Regions from separate parts of the Homo sapiens genome. Here region 1 is linked to region 2. The links come from fine-mapping of genetic effects on gene expression. A gene starts in region 2. The other region holds a variant in brackets. All regions are shown on one strand. Distances are between the middles of the regions. Region 1 has its middle 58 kb from the start of OTX2. Region 2 holds the start of TMEM260 (transmembrane protein 260).

Region 1 (2,920 bases), 170 kb after region 2:
TTACAGGTGTGAGCCACCACACCCGGCCAGGGCAAATTCTTTAACCTCTCTGAGTCTCAAGTGCCTCTTCAATAAAATGGTAATCACAATAGTTTATGTAACGTTTTTTATAATGCTACTTTAAATACCATTATAAAATTAAAAATAATAACTGCTTTATTGACCACCTACCGTATGCTAGACATTGTACACATTTTATTTAACTTTTACAACTCTTCCTTGAGTTTAGTATTATTCCCACACCCTCTATTTTATAGAAGAGAAAACTGAGGCTTCTAAGAGTCAGATGATGTGGCGAAGGACATTAAGCCAGCAACAGGTAGAATTTTGATTAGGACACAGAGATTTCTCATCCAAAGTCCATGATCTTAATTCCTACATTACCCTTCTAAGAAGATTAAATGAGGCAATTTAGGTAAATGTATAGTATTTGGCCTTCGGAAGTTGCTCAGAAAATGTTACTTTGCTTCCTTTTTGCCTCCACTTTTGTTCTTAGCCTACTGAGTTATAGCTTCCCTTTCTGTGCTCAGGTAATTCATACTGTACTTGTATTTGGCTTACTTTCATTCACATTCACTTAGCAATAAATATTTATTGAGTGTCTACTATGTGTCTTGCCCTATGCCAGACACTGGGTATTCAGTCATGAATACAAAAGACACAATCCCCCATCCTCAATGCACTTGTAGCAATGCCAACAGCGTCCTCCAGGAGTCTCTGAATGTGGAGGCTGAGCCACGTTGCACTTCTTTAAGATGGATTAATACCATAGCATTTGCAACTATGATATTATGTTACCTTGGACACCAGGCAATTAGCAAGTAATTAAATCTCCCTTGGTCTGAATACACCTGCAACCAAACTGTCTGCTAAAGTTCTGTTACACTCACTAATTAGCATGAGTTGAATGACAGGATAATCAGAAAGAAAACACCTCCTCTTAGAGACTAGGAGTAAATGACAAAAAAGTGAAATGTGATTTTAACACTTTTTTGCTTGGATTTATATTAATGTAGAGTGGATGGACCCATTGTTTATCAATATTAATGCCTCTGGCAATAAATATGTGCCTAGGAAGGATTGACATATGCTCATATTTATATTCATTCTTTCAATATCACAAAAAGTTTGAAAATAACTGTTGCTTAGTCACTATCTGAATGCTTCCAACAGTAACAAATAACTATCTCTCAGAGCTAATAGTGAAGGTACTGACACCTGATTAAGTACAGGTGTACTCATTCAAGAAGCCGCAGTATTATTTTTATGACCACCTACTACAAAG[A/G]TACTATAGAAAACAGAGGATTCTCATGCAATTTCTCCCCCGTCAAAAATATTACCCATATCAACAGGGACTGATGTCAGCCAGATTAGCTTATAAGTCAGGATAAATTAGCTTTTTGACTATAGAGTACTTTTTTTTGAATAAATGGAGAGAAGTATTCAATAGATCTTTACAAATTAAATTTCCCCCTTTTAAAATTCCTTGGCTCTTTGATTAATACATTGCTTTTAAGACTTCAGTGAGAAGTATCATATTATCCTTGTGTTATCCCCTATTTAGGAGCCTACGAATGTCTCTTAATTGGGGACAAAAGTCACCACCTGGGCTGGTGGCTGACTCATTGTGCATGCTTTGCTGGACCTGCCACTGTTGAGTCAGTGGTTCTCATCCCTCCACCCAGGGCCCAGACAAGCTCCAGCCTTTAAGAAACGTCATGTGCCTGTAATCTCAGCACTTTGGGAGGCCAAGGCGGGAGGATCACGAGGTCAGGAGATGGAGACCATCCTGGTTAACACGGTGAAACCTGTCTTTACTAAAAAATACAAAAAAAAAAAAAAATAGCCTGGCGTGGTGGCGGGCACCTGTAGTCCCAGCTACTAGGGAGGCTGAGGCAGGAGAATGGGGTGAACACAGGAGGCAGAGCTTGCAGTGAGCCAAGATCGTGCCACTGCACTCCAGCCTGGGTGACACGCCGAGATTCTGTCTCAAAAGAAAGAAAGAGAGAGAGAGAGAGAGAGAGAAAGAAAGAAAGAAAGAAAGAGAGAGAGGAAGAAAGGAAGGTAGGTCATGGATCGGGGCTGCAGCAGAAACAGTGAGTTAGAACAGACTCGGGACAAAGTAAAAAGTCCTGAGAGCCCACTCTGGGTTTTTTAATGTCTACTATTTGAGACATTTGCCAGCCTTTAAGCAAAAGCTCAATGGACAAACTTCAGTGTTCCCAGCTCTAAAGGAATTTAGCTTAATGCTAACGCAGAAAAAATTCCCCAGCCACTCATGTAACTTTATTAGACAAAGTGGAGCATGCCTGCTCTTAAAGAAGAAGAAAAAAGACGTTATTTTCTTTTTCAGAGATTGTGCTACCCTAGAAAGGGAATGCATTTGAAGTAGTAAATGTAGACATTTCAGGCAAATATGTACTTTGTCTTCAAATGAACAGCTTTCAAAATGATCTTGGTTAAGCTCCCTTTTATTTTTATCTTTTATTCCTCTACAATGCCAGCTGAGGTTACCCATCTCCCAACAGCTACCAAATGGACTAGTAATTGTAAGGCTCGGTGATTTAATTAGACTCATTCTAAACACTCACATTTTTATCAATTAGTTAATGGGCTAAAGAGAGTCTCTTTGTTGGAGCCAGGTCATTTGGAAGCTAGAGGCTTCTTGAGGGCAAGAAGCTGAAGAACAGCAGCGTTAATATCTGTAATTAACCTCACGAGTCCTGGGTTGTTCAATTAGGAATGACCTCCCTTCCTTTCCATATGCCTTTCATCAGATGGGATTTTAATGTGAAATAATCACTGAAGAAAAATGAACCAAAAAGAAAGCTTCCCAAAAAATTAGACCTGGATGAAAACAGGACAAAAAGAAAAAGTTCCCCATCTCAAGTGCTTCTAAGTTATTTATTCAACCAGAGCT
Region 2 (2,920 bases):
TGATAACTAACAAATTAGCCTGCATTTATCAACTTAAAACAACATTTATTATCTCGCGGTTTCTATAGGACAGCAGTCTGGATGAGGCTTAGTTAGGTCCTCTGCTTCAGGGTCATCCACAGGCTGCAATCCAAGTCTTGACAGGAGTTATAGTTATCTCAAGGCTTATGTGGGGGAAGGATCCACTTCCTAGCTCCCTCACATGGTGTTGCCTAGATTCAGTTCCTCTAAGGTTGTTGGACTGAAGGTCTCAGTTTCTTGCCAGCTGTTGGCTAGAGGCGGCTCTCAGTTTCTTCCCATGTGGACCTTTCCACAGGGCAGCCTACACCATGGTAGGTGGCTTCATCAGAGAGAACAAGTGAGAGGACAAGAGGGAGTGCCAGCAAGATGAAAGTTAGTCTTTCATAACCTAATCTTGAAAGTGACATCCATCACTTTTGCCTTATTGTATTGATAGAAGCCAATCCTTAGGTTAAGCTCACACATAAGGCGAGCAGCTTATACAGGAAGTGAGTGAGGAGGCAGGGTTATCTGGGAATCCATTTTAGAAGCACTCTACCACACAGCCCCTCTCCTCCAGGAACTCACAGTACAGCTGAGAAATTACCTGGAAAAGGCTGGAAATTGTATAAGTACCTGGAAAAGACTAAGGTGTGCTGGCCCCATGACCGTCAAGGTAGGTATATGTTACTCTATAGTTTAGTCACTGTGTCTCTATCAAATTGCGCGTAACACGTTTGAGATTGTCACTGGTTTTCAGTGTGTCTTTGAGATACATTTTATGCGGGTTGCTCTCCTCCCCGCCCACTCCAGGATAATTGCTTTAATAATAAAACATAAGCTTAAAAAGCTTAACTGCGCTGTTATGTAGTTGTCCTTATTAACGGCTCCGATTCTTTTTTTTTGCGTTACAGCTCATTGTAAAATATGGTGATTCAATTTCATTTTCCACTTTGCTGTGTTGAAAGCTCCAGCAAAACACTCCTCTTCATTAAACTAGGAGACACCTTTATCATGGTTTGAGTTATCTGCATGAATACAGGAACTCAAATTTCCCGACTCATCTACAGAGTTTTCATTATGCTATGGAATGAAAAAAAAAAAAAAAGACGCACTAGCATATTCTAATCTCTCTAAAAATTACTCAGTGATTTAATAAGTAGCACACAGACTTATTGTAATTAGTCATAGTAACGTAGTAAATCGTAATAAATACATAATTGTGATTAATGTATTTATTGGCTTACTTTGCACATACGGTAAATACACCACCCTTTTTTTTTTTTTAGCACAGGTAGGGGCTCCTGGCTGATCGTGGCCCTTTTGTGCAGTTCCACCCCGCACCGTAGGGGGCAGGAGCAGCCCTTCCTCGCTCGCGGTTTTCGACGCTGCTTTGGTCTCTGTCAGACCCAACCAAGTCAGTATAAAAGGGGGGAATAGCCATGGAGAAGGTAGGCCTGTGGCCGGGCTTGCTTTTTAAAGGGAATGCTCTCCTGGTGATTAGGAACCTTAAATCACATTATAAGTAGGTGAACGCCAATGCGTGGTGCACTGCGGGAAAACTCGCAGGGCCTGGCTCAAGGGAGGCCTGGCATTTTCTCCTCCCCGCGCTCAGGCGGAGAAAGGTGCGGTCCAACCCGCGGAGGCTCGACCCGGAAGCCGCCGTGGCCGCCGCACAAGCTGCGCTCGTCTCTCGGCTGGGGAGCTCCGTGTCGCACCGGGTTCTTGGGCTGGCCGTGTCCTTCTCCCTCGGTCGCCACTGGCCCATGAGTCCCCATGGCGACGGCAGGGGCCAGGCCCAGGGGCGGGCAGTCCGAGTGGGGCTGCGGCGCTCCGGGGGCATCCGCGGCGGCGTGGCGGTGTTCGCCGCCGTGGCCGCAGTGTTCACCTTCACCCTGCCCCCTTCGGTACCGGGGGGAGACTCCGGTAAAGTACTCGCAGGGTTGCCCCTTCTGTCCCTCTCCCCTGGTCCCAGAACGGGCAGGGTCTGCGTCTGGCCCCTGCTCTTGGCATTCGGTCTGGTCAGCTCTGGGCCTCCATCCACCCCCCTGTGCACAGCGCACTATTGTGTGTTCCAGAGCCCACTTCTGTTTCCATTCCTGTCGTTGTGGTTTCTTTAGTTCTCAGGTTTTCGAGATGGGGCGTATTGTTGGTTTCGCCTGGTGGGGCTTATCGACCTCTCCACTTCCCCAGATCTTTTATCCTGGTCCTGAGTATTTACTTTCAGTCTTTTTTAGTCCACAGATATTATTCACGGTGTCCTTATTATGTTTCAAACAAAAGAACAGTAGTGGCGAACAGATAATTGCTAGTGTTCCAGTGCGGTTAGACAATACACAAGTTAATGAATAAACAGCATATTCACTGGTGATAAGTTATGGAGACAGTAGGAGGGAAATATGATTGAGAGTGGGGGTAAGTAGTGGGTCCTTCCGAATGACTATTCAGGAAAGACCTCTGAAGAGGTGGTGTTTTAGTTGAAACCTGAATATTGAGAAGGAACTAGCCATGCAGAATATTTGCAGGAGAACTCTTAAAAAGGTGGAAGCCAGGTGCGGCTGTTTCTATGAAAAAGAAAAGCATGACTCATTGGCCCTTAAATCACACTAATTGTTTTGTATTTGATGCAAGAAACAAGATCCATGTTTTGTTTTTGGATTCAATAATGCCATATCATGGCCAGTAATTTTGTCAGAATAGTGCTGTAATTTCAGGTGGTGAACCTATGGACTGAAGAAGCAGTTTTTGCTGCATGACTAGTGATCCCCAAATTGAGCAGCTTAAACAGCAAACGTTTATCGTCTCCCGTTTTTGTAAATCAGGAGTCTGGGTGCCGTTTAAGCTAGATGCTCGTACTCAGAAAAAGGTTGCTGTCATGGTGTGCGATGGGGCTGCGGTCTTCTCAAGGCTCAATTTGGGG

The links.
Region 1: its variant is fine-mapped to the expression of TMEM260 in ileum (GTEx, PIP 0.96).

The regions. Positions count from the first base shown.
Region 1 is chr14:56,750,956-56,753,875 of GRCh38, forward strand. No RefSeq gene overlaps it. Among named protein-coding and RNA genes, the nearest start is that of OTX2, 58 kb to the right of the region's middle. The variant A/G (reference allele first, on the strand shown) is at 1,286.
Region 2 is chr14:56,578,149-56,581,068 of GRCh38, forward strand. TMEM260 (transmembrane protein 260) reads left to right here and starts at 1,650. Exons shown (of 16, transcript NM_017799.4): 1 at 1,650-1,926. The coding sequence starts at 1,767. RefSeq lists a silencer at 1,718-1,937.